Regions from separate parts of the Homo sapiens genome. Here region 1 is linked to region 2. The links come from fine-mapping of genetic effects on gene expression. A gene starts in region 2. The other region holds a variant in brackets. All regions are shown on one strand. Distances are between the middles of the regions. Region 1 overlaps RPS27L (ribosomal protein S27 like). Region 2 holds the start of LACTB (lactamase beta).

Region 1 (10,759 bases), 26 kb after region 2:
GATTCTCCTGCCTCAGCCTCCCAAGTAGCTGGGATTACAGGCACCCACCACCATGCCCAGCCACTTTTTGAATTTTTAATAGAGACAGCATTTCGCCATGTTGGCCAGGCTGGTCTCGAACTCTTGATCTCAGGTGATCCATCCGCCTCAGCCTGCCAAAGTGCTGGGGATTACAGGCGTGAGACACTGTGCCCAGCCCAAATATCCTTTTAATATGAGAGCAGAAACAAAAGCATGAGAAATGGTATATTAGTTATCCACTACAGCTTAAAAGAAACGTTCAGAGAAGGAATCGGGAAATCAGGAGCAATATAGTCACGTGGGTCTGGCGCGGTCTCTAATGAGGTTGCAGACAAGGTGTTATGATCATCTGAAGAATTCTCCAGGGCTGGAGGAAATGCTTCCACATGGCTTACTTGCATGACTGCTGGCAAGAGTCAGTTCTCTGGCTGGTGGGTGGCAAGGGGACTCAGTTTGTCACCACATGGACCTCTCTGTAGGGCTGCTTGAGTATCTTATGGTAGTTGGCTTCCCGCAGAGTAAGTGATGAGACAGAGAGTGCCAGGCAGAAGTCACTCTTTTATAAACTAGCCTCAAGTCACATACCATCACATTTGCCAAATTCCATGGGTTACATGGGGCCTAATAAATGTTGAAGAGATTATATACATTGTGAATATTAGGAGGCAGGAATCACTGGGTGTCAACTTGGAAGTTGGGTACCACAGTCTGACCTCTGGTCCCCAATGATTTATGTCCTTCCCAATGCAAAATACTCTTACCTCCTTTCAAATCCTCCAGAAGTTTCACCTTAATATAGCATCAGCTCAAAGCCCAGTATCTTATCATCTAAATCAGGTCAGGTGCAAGTGTGAATGAGGGCTCCTTGGGATGAGTTCCTTAGGTACAGCAACTCAAGTAGTTTCTCTTAAGACCTGTGAACTGTAGTTATTTGCTCCCCATATGTGTAACATACCGTAGCACAGCAGATATAGGATAATTGCTAGATACCGTCCTCTTCAAAAAGTAGGGAAGTGGAAGACATACAGGAGACTGGCAATTCTGAAATTCAGTCAGACAGAGGTTGGCAACTCTGATTAGTATTCAAGGCTTCAGAATAATTCTTAGTTCTTGGCTATGTTCTCTGGGCTCTTAGTTCTACCTTACGAGTTATACTTTTTCTTTTTTTTAAGAGACAGCTGTTCACCATATTTCCCAGGCTGGTCTTCAACTACTGGGCTCAAGTGATCCACCCACCTCAGCCTCCCAAAGTGCTGGGATTATAGGCATGAGCCACCGCACCCAGCCCCTGAGTTATACTTTTTTTAATTGTTCTTTTTTACTTTTTTTTTTTTTTTTTTGAGACAGGGTTTCCCTCTGTCACCCAGGCTGGAGTACAGTGGCACAATCTCGGCTCACTGCAGCCTTAGCCTCCTGGGTTCAAGCAATTCTCCCACCTCAGCCTCTCGAGTAGCTGGGATTACAGGTGCGTGCCACCACTCCCGACTAATTTTTGTATTTTTAGTAGAGACAGCGTTTCACCATGTTGGCCAGGCTGGTCTCGAACTCCTGACCTCAGGTGATCCGCCCCCCTCGGCCTCCCAAAGTGCTGGGATTACAGGCGTGAGCCACTAAGCCTGGCCGCTTCCCCATACCTTTTTTTCATGAAAGGTAGCGTATCTTTCTAGCTGAGTGGTTTTCTCAGTGTGCTTTCCACTTGTAGAAGTTTGGAGACCCAAAGGCCTTTTTATACTCTCTTTCCTTTCCATCTAAGTTAACAGTGGTTCTGCCAATATAATATTTTATTTCTCTAATTTTTGAATTTTTTTTAGCAACCCTATTAACTGACAATATAATATTTTAAAATGTTAAGAGTATCCTGTGAATTTTATTGGGGTTTATGCCAGTAGACAAAAGCCACCCCAAAGTCCCTTCAGAATATCCCCTCTCTAACTTGGGGCTTGTCTCTGCCAAGATAATGGGAAGAACTAATTACGCTAATAATCTAATGAACTCTATTGTTTAAATAGTTCTCTGAAGCACCATGTTGATTCATTTTGAAGTCTTGAGAAAGGATTGTATAGTCATGCCCTCAATATCATCTTTAGACTATGTTTTCCTGGAAGTGCCCTCAATTATTATCTTTGCCTTGAAGCCATTTCTTAATTTTGGCATCATTTGCAATCTGAAGAGTCTGGGAATTTTTTAAACCATCAATTATTAATTCTTTACCAATAGTTCTTCCATTAGCTTATCTTTCTCTTGCATGTTAGTATAAGCAACAAGAATTAAGGAAGCACATTCAACACTGTGTATGGCTCTCTGCTCCTTCTCTTGCCCTGTGACATCCGGGCTCCCCCTTCTCTTTCCGCCATGGTTGTAAGCTTCCTGAGGCCCTCACCAGAAGCACATGCCAGCACCATGCTTCCTGTCCAGCCTGCAGAACCGTGAGCCAAATAAACCTCTTTTTATAAATTACCCAGCCTCAAAACAAAAAAACAAAAAACAACAACAAAAAAAAAAAAACACTGCATATGGAAATCCCATCAGCTAGTCACCCAATTCATTAGGCACATTTTCTGTTTTCTGAGTTACTCCTGGCGACAGTGTTGCTAAATTTTCTGTCAGTACTAAACAAGAATCCCTTCCTCTAATTGCCAATAAGATTTCTCTTACTTTCCTTAAGACTACACCTGCAGCCTCTTCAAAGGCCATACTTCTCAACAATTTCTTCAAGGCTCTTCAGGTTTTCATTAACACTTTCCTTAAAGTCCTTCCAACTTCCATCCGCTGCTCTGTTCCAAATACATACACACATACACACACACACGTAATTTAGATATAATTCACAGTCCATATGCCATAAAATTCTTTAACGTGTACAATTCAGTGGTTTTTAGTATAGTCACGAGATTATGTACCCATTACCACTATCCAATTCATTTTCACCCCAAGAAGAAACCTCATACCCATTAGCATTTGCTCCCCATTCCTCTGTCCTTCCAGCCCCTGGTAACCAGCAATCTACTTTCTATCTCTTTGGATTTGCCTGTTACGGATGTTTCATATAAATGGAATCACACCATATCTGGCCTTCTGTGTCTTGAGCTTTTTCCTGTAGTATAATGTGTATTAGTTATCTATTACTGCATAACAAATTACCCCAAAGCTTATTGTCTCACAGTTTGTGTTTCAGAAATTTGGGGGCAGCTTTGCTGGGTGTTTCTAGCTCAGGGTCTCATGAGTTTGTAGACAAGATGTCAGCAGGGGCTTCAGGCATCTGAGGGAAGGCTTGACTGGGGCTGGATAATCTGATTCCAAAATGATTCACCCACGTGGCCATGGGCAAGAGGTCTTTGTGGCTTGCTGGCTTTGGGCAAGAGTTTTCAGTTTCTCACCACATGGCCCTCTCCATAGGTCTGCTTGTCTGTGCTATGGCTTCCCTTTAGAGCAGGCGATTGAAGAAACAGGGAAACACCTCAATGTCTTTTATAAATCAGCCTTGGAAGCCATATGCCATCACTTATGCCAAATTCTGTTGGTTACAGAAACCAACCCTGATTTGGTGTGGGAGAGGACTGTAGAAAGGAGTGGATACCAGAAGGTTGGGATCATTGGGAGCCATTTTGGAGGCTGCAGTGTTAACGTATTGGGGAATTTTGTTCTAACAGCCACAGATCATGTGTACTAGAGATTACCAGTGTGCCACTGAACTCAGGAAAATTCAAAAAGAAATCAAAGTTTTTATACACCCTAATAAAGGAAGGGCTTTTCTATAATTCTGAGCCCTAAATCTGTTTCTTCCCTTAACACTTTATACAAGTAAATAGATGGATATCTCTGAGTTGGTTGAAGTAGAAAGAGAGCAGCTCTCTAAAACAGATCCATTTCATCTCCTTATTTCTTTCTGACTTCTGATCTCTAGGTCCTGTATTCATGTTTGTCAAGTTTTCAATCCGTGCCCTTAGATAAACATAAAAATGTCATGCCTTTCTTTAATGTTATTTTAACATTAAATGTTTAATGTTTCTTTAATGTTAGTGTTTTATGTTATTTGGAATTTATTTATTTTTTAGAAACAGAATCTTGCTCTGGCACCCAGGCTAGAGTGCAGTGACATGATCGTAACTCACTGTAACCTGGGCTCAAGTGATCCGCCCACCTTGGCCTTCCAAAGTGCTGGGATTACAGGCATGAACCACCATGCCTGGGCCCCCATTTGGAATTTTCTTTTATTTTTATTTATTTATTTATTTAGAGATAGGGTCTCACTCTGTCACCCAGGCTGGAATGCAGTGGTACAATCATGGTTCACTGCAGCCTTGACCTTCCAGCCTCAGGTGATCTTCCCACCTCAGCTTCCTGAGTAGCTAGAAATGCAGGTGCACTCCACTATGCCTGGATAATTTTTTGTAGAGTAGGGGTTTCACAATATTGTCCAGGCTGATCTTGAACTCCTGGACTCAAGCAATCCTCCTGCCTCAGCCTCTCAAAGTGCTGGGATTACAGGCATGAGCTACCGTGCCCGACCACCAATTCTTTGATGGCCACGATTTCCTCTCATTCCATTGTGCATGCAACTTTGCAATGTGATTTTGCTGCTTTTTCCATCCAAAGGTGGAGCTCTTTCTCCACTCTCTTGAATCTGGTCTTGCTTTATGATTTGCTTTTTGACCCACTGAATGTGGTGGAAATAATGTTGCACAAGTCCCACTGCATAGGCTTTAAGTGGCTTTCAAGCTTTTGTCTGCCACCTTCTAAGAACACTACCCCAAGATTGCCATGTAAAGAAGCCAGACTAGCTTACTGAAGGATGGGGGACCATGTGGAGGGGAACAGAGATGCCCCAGCTGACAGCTAGCACCAGCTGCCAGACCTATGATTTGAGCCTCCAGGTGAAGGTGGCTGTGTAAGTGAACCTAGATGAGACCAACAGAGTAAGCAGCCAACTCATATACTCATGAGAAATAGTAATAAGTCAACATTTTAAGCTATTAGATTTGGGGGTGACTTGTTTTGTAGCAAAAGTTAACATATCTATGCTCCAGTGTGGTGGTAAGGTGGGTAAATCACTTTAGGGAAAAAATGGAACATTAAAGTACTTGATGTTGAATAGACATGACTGCTTTCCACTTAAAAAAAAA[T/A]ACCACACAAACTATTTTTTTTTTTTTAAGACACAGTTTCGCTCTTGTTGCCCAAGCTGGAGTACAATGGCGCGTTCTCGGCTCACTGCAACCTCCACCTCCCAGGTTCAAGTGATTCTCCTGCTTCAGCCTCCTGAGTAGCTGGAACTACCGGCACATGCCACGCCCGGCTAATTTTCGTATTTTTAGTACAGACGGGGTTTCATCGTATTGGTCAGGCTGGTCTCAAACTCCTGACCTCAGTTGATCCACCCGCCTTGACCTCCCAAAATGCTGAGATTACAGACGTGAGCCATCGCGCCTGGCCCACACAAACTATTAACAGAGCACTTACTGTGGGGAAGGCATTTTGCTAAGCTCTTTGTATATGCTATCTCATTATACCTTCAACATAACTCTATTAAGTAGAAATATTATTATTTTTTCACAAGGTCACAAACCATTAACTAGCACTTGTTTCAAACCCACACATATCTGACTCTAAAGCCTGTTTTAACCATTATCGTGACTTCCCATAAAAAGCATCTCTAGGCCAACGCAGTAGCTCACACCTGTATTCCCAACGCTCTGGAAGGCTGAGATGGGCGGACCACTTGAGCCCAGAAGTTGAGACCAGCCTGGGCAACATGGTGAAACCCTGTCTCTACAAAAAATACAAAAATAAACCAGGTATGGTGGCATGGGCCTGTAGTCCCAGCTACTTGGGAGAATGAGGCGGGAGGATCACTTGAGCCCAGGAGGCAGAGGTTGCAGTGAGGCGAGATCGCATCGCTGCACTCTCTAGCTTGGGCAACAAAGCAAGACTCTGTCTAAAAAAAAAAAAAAGGCATCTCTAAAAATTTACCAATCCAATAAAAGTCATATTTAATGGCATGCAATTTTATTGATGCAGTCTTCAGTTTAAAAGTTTGTCACATAAAAATGAATAAAAATAAATATGTTGGTATTTTAATTAGTTGGCTACAAATAAAGAAAAAACACAACTTCAAATTAATACAAAGACAAGATAAAGAACATAGAGTCATAATCTTACACAACCCCTCTGTTCTAAATACATAGCATGATATATAAAATGTGTAATGAGAAAATTAAAAAGACTTTCATAGACACAAAACACTGAGCAGGGCTGAAGCTGAGGGTCTGCCGGGCTCTGGTTCAAAAGGCTGTGGCAGCTCCAATTTCTGTTCCTATAGAATAACTGAAACTAACACTGCTTCCCTAAGATTTAAAATGAAAGCTTATTAACTAAATTAGGACTATTCTGCCTAAATTCTTTGAAAGGTGAAGTTTTGCTAGGTGTGAAAGTGAGAGTAGCCCTAGTAGTGTAGGGGGAAAGCGAGCCAGAATCAGTAGGACACAAATCAGCAGAGAAAATTTGCAATTCTGGCATCTCCTTTGAAACAAAATTCAAAGGCTATTTAAGTGTCGATCAATAGCAAACACCATGACCTGATGTCATTTCTTTTTTTTTTTTTTTTTTTTTTTTCTGAGACAGTCTTGCTCTGTCGCCCAGGCTGGAGTGCAGTGGTACGATCTGGGCTCACTGCAAGCTCCGCCTCCCAGGTTCAAGCAATTCTCCTGCCTCAGCCTCCCGAGTAGCTGGGACTACAGGCGCCCGACACCACGCCCAGCTAATTTTTGTATTTTTAGCAGAGACGCGGTTTCATCATGTTGGCCAGGATGGTCTCAATCTCGACCTCGTGATCCGCCGCCTGGGCCTCCCAAAGTGTTGGGATTACAGGCGTGAGCCACCGCGCCCGGCCCCTGATGTCATTTTCTATGCCTATAGTTGTGAAAAAGTAGCTGTAAAATCCTAAAAGAATACAAGGTCATTATTCTATAAAAGTTATCCTTTTCTTTGTAAAATGCAATAATGTACTCTATTCCTTCCAAAGATTTAAGTTTTTTTCCATGGAAAATTACGAAGACATGAGAGGCCGAGGCAGGCGGATCACGAGGTCAGCAGATCGAGACCATCCTGGCTAACACGGTGAAACCCCATCTCTACTAAAAATACTTTAAAAAAATTAGCCCGGCGTGGTGGCACACGCCTGTAGTCTCAGGTACTCTGGAGGCTGAGGCAGGAGAATGGCGTGAACCCAGGAGGAGGAGCTTGCGGTGAACTGAGATTGCGCCACTGCACTTCAGCCTGGGCGACGGAGCAAGACTCCGTCTCAAAAAAAAAAAAAAAAAAGAAAGAAAAAGAAAAAAGAGAATTACAAAGACATAATTTAAGAATCTCAGTTTCCAAATATGGGGTAGAATTTTACAACTTTATATTCTGTGGTAGCAGAATAATGGCCCTCTAAAGATTCCCACACCCTAATCCCCAGAACCTACGAATATGTTACCTTACATAGCAAAATGGATTTTGCAGATGTCATTAAGAATACTTTATTTGGCCGGATGCAGTGGCTCACACCTGTAATGCCAGCACTTTGGGAGGCTGAGGTGGGCGGATGGCCTGAGGCAAGGAGTTCAAGACCAGCCTGGGCAACATGGCGAAACCCCATCTCTACAAAAAATACAAAAAATTAGCGGGGTGTGGTGGCACGTGCCTGTAGTTCCAGCTACTCGGGAGGCTGAGGCCAGAGGGTCACTCAAGCCTGGGAGGTGGAGGAGGTTGCAGTGAGCTGAGATCACGCCACTGCACTCCACCTAGGGAACAGAGCAAGACTCCATCTCAAAAATAAATAAATAAAAAGTGAAAACACTCTAAGTATCTATCAACTGATGAATGGATAAACATTGTATATTATTACACAGAATATTGTCAAAAAAAGGAATGAAATATTGATACATGCAACAGCATGGACAGCCCTTGAAAACATTATGCTAAGTGAAACATACAGAAGCTACATACCATGTGATTCCATTTATACGAAATAGCATTATATGAAATATTGAGAAGAAGCAAATCCATGGAGACAAAAGTAGCTTAGTGGCTGCCAATGGCTGAGAGGAGGGAAGAATAGGGAGTGAATGCTGATAGGTATGAAGTTTCTTTCTAAGGTGATGAAAATGGTCTGGGATTAGACAGTAGTAATGGTTGCACAACCTTGTAAATATAGTAAAAACTACTGACTTTTACATCACAGAAGTTTGGATTTTATAGTATCTGAATCATATCTCCAGAAAAATAAAACAGAAAGGAATTAGAGCTTTATCAGATGACTTACAGGAACGACCAGACACAAAACCATTTGTCATCTCATCAGGCCAGAAGCCAAGAATTTCATTTTATTTTTAGCTTATTTATTTTTTTCTTGAGCTGGAGTCTTGCTCTGTCACCCAGGCTGGAGTGCAGAGGCGTGATCTTGGCTCACTGCAAGCTCCGCCTCCCAGGTTCACGCCATTCTCCTGCCTCAGCCTCCCAAGTAGCTGGGACTACAGGCGCCCACCACCATGCCCGGCTAATTTTTTGTATTTTTAGTAGAGACGGGGTTACACCGTGTTAGCCAGGGTGGTCTCGATCTCCTGACCTCGTGATCCACCCGCCTCGGCCTCCCAAAGTGCTGGGATTATAGGCGTGAGCCACTGCGCCCGGCCTATTTTTAGCTATCTTTATGTAACTGGTTTTTCCATTTAGGAAGCCTTCCCCTAAAAATAAATTTATATTAAGTTTATGGAAGGTTTCCTTTACAAATATATTTACATTAAAATATGAAGTCAATATAAATAATATTTAAAACATTCAGTATATAATAATGTATGTGGCTGACCCTGAAGTTTGGGAAAGTCCTGGTGTCCTATTCAGCACTTTTCAAAACCAGTAATACCATCTAGATTAATAATAAAGTAAAACTTAATACACCATTCGTTTCCCAATGCCATGTAAATCCTTAGATGTGTTCTTTCTTTGAGACACAGCTTCACGCTGTCACCCAGGCTGAAGTGCAGTGGTGCGATTTTGGCTCACTGCAACCTCTGCCTCCTGGTTTCAAGCAATTCTTGTGCCTCAGCCTCCCAAGTAGCTGGGACTACAGGTGTACACCACCACGCCCAGCTAATTTTTGTATGTTTAGTAGAGACGGGGTTTCACTGTGTTGGCCAGGCTGGTCTCGAACTCCTGACTGCAAGTGATCTGCCTGCCTCAGCCTCCCAAACTGCTGGGATTATAGGTGTGAGCCACCGCGCCCAGCCCTTAGATGTGGTCTTTAAAGTATAATCCTTTTTTAAAAAATACTTCCAAGGGAATTTTCAGGGTTTGTTAGATTAGTCCTCATCATAGGTTTGATTCCTTCTCATCAAAAGCTGTCATCCCACTGTCTCTCCTTATAGCCAAGTATCCTAAACTGTGCAAGCTGAAGTGCCTTGGAGTACCTCAGGAAAAACACTTGACACTGACGCATCTTTTGTATAAACTACTAGTTCCAGGAAGTTCAGTTTCAATATGATATGGCACTACATTCCCTTTGATGGCATCCTATCCTTGTGAAGCTGGGTTTGGAGCCACTGCTATGACAAAAAGCACCATGCAAAAATCAATGTGGAAGAAATAAGGACAATGGTGTCCAATCTGATTTCAATTTTGAGAAACTGTATGGAGCCCAAAAGGCACACACATTCCATTAGTAACTGTGATGATTTAAGGATGAGATAAAAATTATCACATCAGGCTGGGCACAGTGGCTCACACCTGTAATCCCAGCACTTTGGTAGGCCAAGGCAGATCACCTGAGGCCAGGAGTTCCTTACAGCCTGGGCAACACAGCCAGAGCCCCATCTCTACAAAAAAATTAGGCGGGCGTGGTGGCACGTGCCTGAAGTCTCCGCTACTCAGGAGGCAGAGGTGGGAGGCTTGCTTGAGCCCAGGAGTTTGAGGTCACAATGAGCTATGACCCTCCAACCTGGGCAATAGAGCCAAGACACTGTCTCTATTTTTAAAAAAATCATCACATCACTTTTGCTCTTGTGTGTGTATAGTTTTTTTCAAATGGCTACTAGAGTTGTTAGAACATAAGTTAATAAATGTAACTGTTAGGTATTTCTTTTGGCCAAGGAATGGCCTGAAAAAAATTACTGAGATTCTAATGATGTCAGAAACTAAAAGTCTGAGAATCTCTGGGTCATCTACATATATATGTATATATATATATTTTTTTTTTCTTTTTTTTTTTGAGACGGAGTTTCGTGCTTGTTGCCCAGGCTAGAGTGCAATGGCACGATCTTGGCTCACCACAACCTCCACCTCCCAGGTTCAAGCGAATTCTCCTGCCTCAGCCTCCCGAGTTAGCTGAGATTACAGGCATGCACCACCACGCCCAGCTAATTTTGCATTTTTAGTAGAGACGGGGTTTTTCCATGTTGGTCAGGCTGGTCTTGAACTCCCGACCTCAGGTGATCCACCTGCCTCAGGCTCCCAAAGTGCTGGGATTACAGGTGTGAGCCACTGCGCCCAGCCTTCCTTATACAACTATATACACCCCAAACTTGCCATCATTCTTTAGTTCTTGTGCAACAGTTCTCTGATTTAAGCAGTATGTAAGAGGATCAGTTGCTCACATTAGAGGCCTACCTGTTGATAGGAAATGCCTGTTTTAAATACCTGCCACAAGGTAACAAATCAAATAGAAGCAGAGTAGAAACTGGACTATCTTCCTAGTCCAATGAGG
Region 2 (10,759 bases):
CACACCTGGCTAATTTTTGTATTTTTAGTAGAGATGGGGTTTCGCCATGTTGTCCAGGCTGGTCTTGAACTCCTGACTTCAGGTGATCTGCCTGCCTTGGCCTCCCACAGTGCTGGGATTACAGGCATGAGCCACCACACCTGGCCCATGACTATCTTTTAATTCCTTGAATGAAACCGCCTCTTCCCACCACAAGGCCTTAGCATTTGCTAATTCCTTGCATGGAACACTTCCCTTCTCTTTCTGCCCATACTTAACCAAGGTAATTCCTGTTTATCCTTAAAGTCTTGGATGTAATTTCATTTCATTAGGAAAGTCTTCCTTCATCTCCCAGATCAGATAACATCTCACATTATAACCTCTCAACACAGTATGCACCTCTCCTTCACAGCACTCATTACAACTAGGATTTTACATTTAATCTTGCCGTTCTGTTTATCATGACTCTATTACCGTATAGACTGCAAGTTCCAGGAGGGCTGGGACTATGTCTATTCTGAGTTGTTGGACAGAAGTTTCTATTGGTGTACCAGTGGTTTCTGTCTGAGTCCCACTCAGTATTTTGTTTTGTTTTCCTGAGACAGGGTCTCGCTCTGTCACCCAGGCTGGAGTTCAGAGGCATGATCACAGCTCACTGCAGCCTCGACCTCCCAGGGTCAGCAGTCCTTCCACCTCAGCCTCCCAAGTAGCTGGTAGTCACAGGCCACCATGCCCGGCTAATTTTTTAAAATTTTCTGTAGAGAACGGGTCTCACTATGTTGCCAGGGCTGGTCTCAAACTCCTGGGCTCAAGCAATCCTCCCACCTTGGCCTCCTAGATTGCTGGGTGTGAGCCACCGTGCCCAGCCTATAGTTTAACTTTAAAGCAAGGATGATTAGTCCCTCCCCAAAACTAACCCCCAAGGAGATAAGATGGGTATACACATAAGTAACAATGTTATGTTAAAAATTTGTAAGAGCACTGTGACCTGACAAAGACAAAGAAGCTTACCCTTGCTGCCACCCAGATGTCTGTGGTCACTGGTCACCTTTTGACCTAAGCCTCTTCCCGTTTTCCCCCTCCCCTAACATAAAAGGAGCCCAACATTCACATTTACTTAAGATGCTTCTTTAGGACAGTAGTCTGCCATCTTGGTTTGCTGGCTCCACAGAATAAAGTCATCTTCCCTGCTCCAACGCCTGTCTCTTGACTGATTGGCTGTTGTGTGGTGAGCAGTACAAGCTTTGGACGCAGTTACAGCAGTCCATCAAAACTGTAGCTCCAGCTTCAGAAGAGATGATATTAAAGTTCTCTCATGATCTTTTATTTCCCCAATTTCTGATAAGTGCATTTTCATATTTATATGGTTTTGCTTCATTTATTCCTATTTTGTTTTGTAATTCCTTTTTTGTTGTGTAGATATTATACATTTATTTATCTTTTATATATATTTTCAACAAATATATAAAATATATAAATACACAAATATATAAAAAATATTTTATATATACTTGTTTTATATATTTCAATATATAAAAATATATATTTAAAAATATATATTTGTTTTAAAATATATATATTTGTTTTATTTTCTATCACCCATCTTTTTCTTAGCCAGGGAAAGGCCTCTCTTTTTCCTCTTTTCCTGTATATCCTTCTACTGATTTTATTTTGTTTGGGGTGATTTCACAATTTGGTGGTTGATTTTATTGTCAGTGTTTTTTAGAAAACTTTTAAAAATATGTTTTGGAAACTTGGTTTGCAGATTTATTTTTAGTGGAAAGTTTCTTTCCTTCCCCTTTTCCTCACTTTTTTTCTCTCTTCCCATTCTTCTCCATGTGTAGTCATTTACCTTTTTTATTTATTTTTTTTTTTGAGACAAAGTCTCGCTCTGTCATCTAGGCTGCAGTGCAGTGGCGTGATTTCAGCTCACTGCAACCTCCGCCTCCCGGGTTCCAGTGATTCTCCTGCCTCGGCCTCCCGAGTAGCTGGGACTACAAGTATGTGCCACCATGCCCAGCTAATTTTTGTATTTTTAGTAGAGACGGGGTTTCACCATGTTGGCCAGGCTGGTCTTGATCTCTTAACCTCGTGATCCACCTGCCTCAGCCTCCAAAAGTGCTGGGATTACAGGAGTGAGCCACCGCGCCTGGCCTGTTTACCTTTCTTCTATCTGGTCTCTGCGGCTCCCACCCCAAAGCCAGCTCAAATGCTGGGGCTCTGGGCTCCTGCCCTAGAGTTGTAGTAAAGATCCTGCCAACAAGTCTGCAGGCTGCTTGGTCAGGTTGCCTCCTGGGCACTCAGCTTGCTGGAGAACAATTTATTTTCTGTTACCTTCTGAGAAAAGAAAATAACTTTTATGTGAAGAATGCAAGTCCTTTCAAATTATCAGGCCCAGGGAGACATTAAAATGAGATGGTGGCTGAGTATTGTGGCTCACACCTGTAATCCCAGCACTTTGGGAGGTCGAGGTGGGAGGATCGCTTAAGCCCAGGTGTTTGAGATCAACCTGGGCAACATGGCGAAAGCCCATCTCTAAAAAAAATACAAAAATTAGCCAGGTGTGGTGGTGCATGCCTGTGGTCCTAGCTACTCAAGAGGCTAAGGTGGGAGGATCACCTGAGCCTGGGAGGTTGGGGCTGCAATGAGCCATGATCACGCCACTGCACTCCAGCCAGGGCAACAGAGTGAGACCTTATCTTAAAAAAAAAAAAAAAAAAAAAGAGATGGCATTCATGTCCTACCCCCACAATAAGCTATGTATTCATCTCTTGAAACTGCTTGCTGTTGCCACGAGTAGTTATAAATTAACCTAATAATGGGGCACCAGACGCTAGAACCCATACCCTGTTGCTTAACAATGTATATAGCCAATCATTGTTATTTCTGTAAACCAATGGGGATCCCTGACAAACAACTTTGTATCAGCCCATTCCCTGTCCCCCTTTTTTTGCCTTTAAAGGCAAAGGAGGACAGGGGAGCTCCCCTTAATGGGGAGCTCATTCCAAGTTTCCTTGGGTCTGAGTCTTCAGGGCAGCTGTCCTCACTTTGGCTAAAGTAAAGTCTTTAAATTATATTTTGTGCCTCAGCCTCTTCCTTTTAGGTTAACACTTCCCAGAAGCCATACTTCAAATGGCCTCTCTGTACCTGCTTCTAGACTGGAAGTCCACCAGGACATTGGCTTTTGCCCTGTACATGGCAAACACAGGGCTCTGTTTCTTTTTTTATTTTTTATCCAAGGAGAGGTACAGAAGAGTGCAAAAAACACATATGTGAAACCAGCCCAATTGTCCAATAGAATATGTTTATGGTTTATTTTGAATAAAGAGAGAAAATTGACCTGCCCAGTCTTAAAACTTGAGAAACTTACATTTGTCTTATCTGAGTTCCTTTTGGAGGAAACCAACCATCAGGTCTCCCAGATAGTATCAAGAAACTGAAACTTACCAGATCACCACATTTGGACAATGAGACACCAGATCCTTCACCTGTCATGATTGCCTAACCCAGCGGTTCCCAGCTTTTTTGGCACCAGGGACAGGTTTCATGGAAGAAAGTTTTTCCATGGGGTGTGGGGTTGGGGCTGATGGGTATGGTTTCAGGATGAAACTGTTCCACCTCAGATCATCAGGCATTAGTTAGATTATCATAAGGAGCAAGCAACCTAGATCCCTCACATGCGCAGTTCACAATAGGGTTCGAGCTCCTATGAGCATCTAAGGTCATGACTGATCTGACAGGAGGTGGAGCTCAGGCAATAATGCTCCCTCACCTGCCACTCACCTCCTGCTGTGTGGCCCAGTTCCTAACTAGTCCATGGCCCAGGGGTTGGGACCCCCGGCCTAACCAACCACCTGCTTCCTGTTGAACAATTCTTCTTCCTTATCCCTCCCTATTTCCTGTTTCCCCACACATAGTTACATTTCTTCCTTGCTATATAAACCCCTAATTTTAGTTAGCTGAGGAAATGGACTTGAGACTGAACTCCCGTTTCCCTGGCTGCAGCACCTGAAAAAGCTTTGTTTTCCCCCGGCGATACTCATTGTCTTGGTGACTGGCTTTCTGTGTGGCGAGCAATGGGATCTAGGCTAAACCCTTGGTGTTTCAGTAACATATGTACAGTTTAAAGAAAAATTATGTACAGTTTAAATAAAAGTGGGCACTCATAACCACCACTGACTGCGTCTTTTACATTTTTCTCTTTATATTTTTTCTCTCATGTTCTTGGAGTAGTGGTGACCCCCACCGTGGGAACCTCCAGTACTATCTTAATAGAGTACATCTGTCCACTATAACTGCAGTTTCAGTGTCAAACGCTCTGGGTCCTAGGATATTCTGGTCTCTTGGAGTCTTGGGTTTTGTGAGTAGCCCCAGAAGCTTTACTTATTTAGCCCCACTATTTTCTTGCTAGGTATGGATACCATTATTGCCTTTTCCTCCTATTAAATAATTATTACCTCAATATATTTATTTTGAGGTATGTATATGTTTACTCAGTAAGTTTATTACCTCAATATGTTTGTCCTGATGGCTTGTCAGTTCAAGTCTGTGAGCTCTCTTCTTTATTCCACCTGCAAGAAAAGACAGGGCCATTTTGTATATGGGGCATATTGCCCCAGTGCTGAAGGTATAAAGCCTACAAGCTTTCAAAGATTGTGTGTGTGTGTGTGTGTGTGTGTGTGTGTATGTATGTATCCCAAAATATAAAAATTACAAAACTGATAAATGTTTAAGTAACTTCAAATTAACATATCAATTTCATTACACGTTAAACTAGGATTTTATACACATTTTACATTTTGTAGCAATTTGAGATTAGGTTTCTTATTTCACAAGAATGTCTGATCATTTACAGATGCTGAGAAATCATAGGTAATTGTAAATTATAATAGTTACTTTTGGATTAAAATTTTTCAAGCACGAAATTTTTAAAAAACACTTTATCTTTTATAGCAAAAGAAAGGTAATATAAGGTCTGGATGTAACTTCATGTCTTTGGTACGGTGTGGAGCTAGAATTCCAGAAGCAATAGATTTTAAAACATCTTTAGGGAAATGGGTGAATTGAAATGAGACATAAGGGAGATGGCAAGAGAGTGAAAAGAAGCGCGTTCTAAAGGGGGAAAGGAGAAAGGGAAAGGAAAGGAGAAAGGCATCTCTAAAGGGAAAGGAGATGCCTGCTGAGCGTCTACTGTGTGCCCTGCGCTGTTCCAGAAGTTGAGGATCCAAAACTAAGTCTAGGCTCCCCAAAGAAGTCCCACTCTGGTAAGGAATCTGACAAGTAGTTAAATGATACAAAGTGTTAACTGTTGTTAAAGAAGTGTGCACACTGAGGGGCAAGATGGTAAGGGCGAGAACTCCCATGGGACGGGAACTAGGAAGGCTTCTGGGAGGTGACGCTTGATCTGAGGGTAAGCAAAGGAAAAAAAGGAAAGAGAGACAGAAAGGAAAAACAAGGAAGAGACAAGAAAAGGGAGAGGAAGAAGGGCTCGATGCGATCGGCGCTCGGGTAGTCAGGCGTCGACTGCTAGGGTCTGACCGCGGTCCCCACCCCCGTCCCGCCCCCTGCCCTTCCCTCCGCCCCGCGCCGCGGCTGGCAGGGTGTGCGTGAGTTTGGTGGCGGCCGGCTGTGCAGAGACGCCATGTACCGGCTCATGTCAGCAGTGACTGCCCGGGCTGCCGCCCCCGGGGGCTTGGCCTCAAGCTGCGGACGACGCGGGGTCCATCAGCGCGCCGGGCTGCCGCCTCTCGGCCACGGCTGGGTCGGGGGCCTCGGGCTGGGGCTGGGGCTGGCGCTCGGGGTGAAGCTGGCAGGTGGGCTGAGGGGCGCGGCCCCGGCGCAGTCCCCCGCGGCCCCCGACCCTGAGGCGTCGCCTCTGGCCGAGCCGCCACAGGAGCAGTCCCTCGCCCCGTGGTCTCCGCAGACCCCGGCGCCGCCCTGCTCCAGGTGCTTCGCCAGAGCCATCGAGAGCAGCCGCGACCTGCTGCACAGGATCAAGGTGCGGCCACTGGAGCGGGGGGCGTAGGGGGCCGGGGATCCACCCCTGTCGGCGGTGCTGTCGGGGGCTGAGTGGACCCCACCCGGGGCGGCGGGGTGCCCGCGATCGGCTTCCGAGAAAGACTTCCCATTTCCCCACCGCCGAGCCGTGGTCAGACGCTCTTGGGGGTTCCCCAAATCTGGGTGGAGGTCACCGCCTGTCTCGGGGACCGCCCCTTCCCCCTAGGGGGCGGACAGGCACATCCCTTGCTGTTAGTGAGTGACCATGGCCTGGGACGAGGTGGGCGGGGCCCAGGTGGAGGGGGCGGGGCCCAGGCTCAGGGGGCGGGGCCTTGGAAGGTCCCCGAGGAGAGCGCTGGGCTTTTTCAGCAGGCCCGTAACTGTCGGTTCTTTCCCCTTCGGTCTTAGGATGAGGTGGGCGCACCGGGCATAGTGGTTGGAGTTTCTGTAGATGGAAAAGAAGTCTGGTCAGAAGGTGGGTTCAGAAAATTGTTGTTTTGTTCTGTGCCAGTTGGTAAATAAAATATTGTTTTACTGGTTAGAGTGGATCCCATGAAATGCTATTGCATTTACATAAAACGATGCATATTGTAGAGAAAACATCTAACATAATAAAGAGTCAGGTGTTTTTAAATCACGGTAAGGTTTAAAATGTGACTAATAAATTGGAGTCATGAGGATGGCTACCCACTCCCACTTTTCTCTTAGGACTGGATTTATTAGTCTGAAAGTTTTATACAGTAGTCCCTCCTTATCCTGGGGATATATTCCAAGACCCTCAGTGGATGCCTGAAAAAGTGGATGATATTGAACCCTGTATATACTATATTTTATCTTATATATACATATCTATGATAAAGTTTATAAATCAGGCATAGTAAGAGATTAGCAACAATAATAAAATAGAACAATCACAACAATACTCTGAGTGGCATGCAATTTAAAGCTTACGAATTGTTTATTTCTGGAATTTTCCATTTAATACTTTCGGACCATGGATAACTGAAACTGAGGAAAGCGAAACCACAGATAAGGGGTAACTACTGTGTAGAACAATCCATTAACTGAGTACTTGCAGGTAACACTTATGGGTAGATAAAACTCAGAATTTGTGAAGTTTTCTTTTTTAATTAAGTTAACAATTTCTTGAGGCCTCTCTTCCGTAAAAAGCAAAGTGCTAAGTACTGGGGTTATACACTATTGTAGGGACCAGCCCCACAGGGTCGGTGGGTCTCTCCCTGTGTGCGGCGACGAGAGAGTGTAGAAATAAAGACACAAGACAAAGAGATAAAAGAAAAGACAGCTGGGCCCGGGGGACCGCTACCACCAATGCGCGGAGACCGGTAGTGGCCCCGAATGTCTGGCTGCGCTGTTATTTATTGGATACAAAGCAAAAGGGGCAGGGTAAAGAGTGTGGGTCATCTCCAATGATAGGTAAGGTCACGTGGGTCACGTGTCCACTGGACAGGGGGCCCTTCCCTGCCTGGCAGCCGAGGCAGAGAGGGAGAGGAGACAGAGGGAAAGACAGCTTATGCCATTATTTCTGCATATCAGAGACTTTTAGTACTTTCACTAATTGACTACTGCTATCTAGAAGGCAGAGCCAGGTGTACAGGATGGAACATGAAGGCGGACTAGGAGCGTGACCACTGAAGCACAGCATCACAGGGAGACGGTTAGGCCTCCGGATAACTGCGGGCAAGCCTGACTGATGTCAGGCCCTCCACAAGAGGTGGAGGAGCAGAGTCTTCTCTAAACTCCCCCGGAGAAAAGGAGACTCCCTTTCTGGTTCTACTAAGTAGCGGGTGTTTTTTCTTGACGCTCTTCGCTACCGCTAGACCACGGTCCGGCTGGCAACGGGCGTCTTCCTAGATGCTGGCGTTACCGCTAGACCAAGGAGTCCTTCTGGTGGCCCTGTCTGGGCGTAACAGAACGCTCGCAGTCTTGTCTTCTGGTCACTCCTCACTGTGTCCCCTCAGCTCCTATCTCTGTATGGCCTGGTTTTTCCTTGGCTATGATTATAGAGCAAGGATTATTATAATATTGGAATAAAGACTAATTGCTACAAACTAATAAGATTAATGATATATATAATCATATCTAAGATCTATATCTGGTATAACTATTCTTGTTTTATATTTTATTATACTGGAACAGCTCGTGTCCTCGGTCTCTTGCCTCAGCGCCTGGGTGGCTTGCCGCCCACACACTATTCCTTGTCTTTAATGACTTTTCAGTCTACTTTATTAGGCTTTTTAACCAGGTAGAGGTGTCATCTATTTTTTTCAAACAGAAGGCAAAAAACTTAGGGAGAGGGATTTCTATTCATTTTATGATACTTTTATCAAGGCATTATTTTTCATAACTTCTCTGTTGCACAGAAATTGATCTAATTGGTCATCCTAGGTTTCTAGGAGTCCCACTTTTAGAAAATGATGTTTCAGGCCAGGTGCAGTGGCTCACGCCTGTAATCCTAGCACTTTGAGAGGCAGAGGCAGGTGGGTTGCCTGAGCTTAGGAGTTCGAGACCAGCCTGGACAACGTGGCAAAACCCCATCTCTACTAAAAACACAAAAAATTAGCCAGCCATGCTAGTGCGTGCCTGTAATCTCAGCTACTCGGGAGGCCAGGATACGAGAATCGCTTGAACTCGGGAGGCGGAGGTTTGCAGTGAGCCAAGATCGTTCACTGCACTCCAGCCTGGGCAACAGCGAGACTCTGTCTCAAAAAAAAAGAAAAAAAAATGTTTCATATGCCATTTAAAGGCAGTAAGTTGATGGGCGCAGTAGGGGTTTGAATTTGAAGAAAAATGGGCCAGTTGAGGTGGCGCACGCCTGTAATCCCAGCGCTTAGGGAGTCCAGGGAGGAAGGATGGCTGAAGACCAGAAGTTTGAGACCAGCTTAGGCACCATAGCGACACCTGTGTCTCTATAAAAAAAATTTTATTTATTTATTTTTTTTTTGGAGTTTCACTCTTGTTGCCCAGGCTGGAGTGCAATAGTGCGATCTCAGCTCACCACAACCTCCACCTCCCAGGTTCAAGTGATTCTCCTGCCTCGTCCTCCCGATTAGCTGGGATTACAGGCATGCACCACCACGCCTGGCTAATTTTTGTATTTTAAGTAGAGACGGGGATTCTCCATGTTGGTCAGGCTGGTCTCGAACTCCCGACCTCAGGTGATGCGCCTGCCTCGGCATCCCAAAGTGCTGGGATTACAGGCGTGAGCCACCGTGCCCAGCTTAAAATTTTTTAAAAAAGGAAAATGATTCTTCCTTCAAGTATAAGTATAATCTAATCATTATACCTAATTTATGATAAGTCTTGTAATCAAAAATTATATAAATGTCAGCTTTATGGACTTTATGCAAATATTTTTTAGATATTTAAGATTATACAAATTTATAGTCATTGTATTCCTTTTCTTTTCAGATCTCTGTTCTCTTTTTATTTATTTATTTATTTATTTTTTGGACAGGGTCTCTTACTGTGTCTCCCAGGCTGGCGTGCAGTGGTGTGATCTTGGCTCACTGCAATCTCAAACTCCTGGGCTCAGATGATTCTCCCACCTCAGCCTCCTGACTAGCTGAGACTACAGGTGCACTCCACCACGCCAGGCTTTTTTCTTTCTTTCTTTCTTTTTTTTTTTTGTATATTTTGTAGAGATGCGGTTTCTGCCATGTTGCTCAGGCTAGTCTCGAAATCCTGAGCTCAAGTAATCCACCCGTCTCCGCCTCCCAAAGTGCTGGGATTGCAGGCACTTTCTCTTTCTTAGTTAGATTTACGCACTTTCAGCCTGTGAGAACATGGAAACCAAATTTAAAATTTTTTCTAGAAAAAGCTTTAAGTTAGTACATAATTTTCCTCCTGGTTTGCAGTCGAATTAAATTGATGGTTAGCTAGATTTGGTTTGCAGGACATCTTTTCACACATTTTTGAGACAGTTTCACTTTGTCGCCCTGGCTGGAGTGCAGTGGCGTTTTCTCAGCTCACCGCAACCTCTGCCTCCAAGGTTCAAGCGATTCTCCTGCCTCAGCCTCCCGAGTAGCTGGGATTACAGGCACACGCCACCATGACTGGCCAATTTTTGTATTTTTAGTAGAGACGGGGTTTTACCATGTTGGCCAGGCTAGTCTTGAACTCCCAATCTCAGGTGATCTGCTCACCTTGGCCACCCAAAGTGCTCAGATTATAGGCATGAGTCACCATGCCCGGCCCACACTTACTTTTATTGAGTGGCTATTTCAAGGAATTCAGTGGAAATTTACTCAAAAGTCAAAAATAAATATAATCTGAAGAAGAATAATGATGTTTTCTTTAAAGAATACTTTATTTAAAATGTGGAATAACTCAGTTGTTTAGATAAGCTAAGAAAAATTTGTATCTAAGTCATAGAAAATTGCTATTGCAAACAGGGTACAATTTCACTTTAGTTATAAGGTTAAATTGTTAGGCTTACCGATATACTAAGATTTTAATCCTTTACATGTCCAGTGTTAAGTAACTTATAAAAGTGGAGTATCTTTTCTTTTAGATAAACACAGCATGTTTAAAGATAGTATTATTTCAGGGTTTGAAAACTTGTTTGACCATGAAGCCTGTTAATAGTGACTTTTTGCTTTTTTCCCCCAAAGGTTTAGGTTATGCTGATGTTGAGAACCGTGTACCATGTAAACCAGAGACAGTTATGCGAATTGCTAGCATCAGCAAAAGTCTCACCATGGTTGCTCTTGCCAAATTGTGGGAAGCAGGGAAACTGGATCTTGATATTCCAGTACAACATTAT

The links. PIP is the estimated chance that this variant, and not a neighbour inherited with it, causes the effect.
Region 1: its variant is the best candidate, but not a certain one, in a credible set for the expression of LACTB in fibroblasts (GENCORD, PIP 0.51).

What each region holds. Positions count from the first base shown.
Region 1 is chr15:63,142,247-63,153,005 of GRCh38, forward strand. It overlaps RPS27L (ribosomal protein S27 like), which reads right to left. Exons shown (of 4, transcript NM_015920.4): 4 at 6,003-10,759. Among named protein-coding and RNA genes, the nearest start is that of RPS27L, 9.9 kb to the right of the region's middle. The variant T/A (reference allele first, on the strand shown) is at 5,145.
Region 2 is chr15:63,116,252-63,127,010 of GRCh38, forward strand. It overlaps LACTB (lactamase beta), which reads left to right and starts at 5,610. Exons shown (of 6, transcript NM_032857.5): 1 at 5,610-5,977; 2 at 6,385-6,451; 3 at 10,608-10,759. The coding sequence starts at 5,621. LOC107984798 (a long non-coding RNA gene) reads right to left here and starts at 5,516. Exons shown (of 2, transcript XR_001751584.1): 1 at 4,489-5,516. RefSeq lists silencers at 5,499-6,078, 6,099-6,168, 6,179-6,368.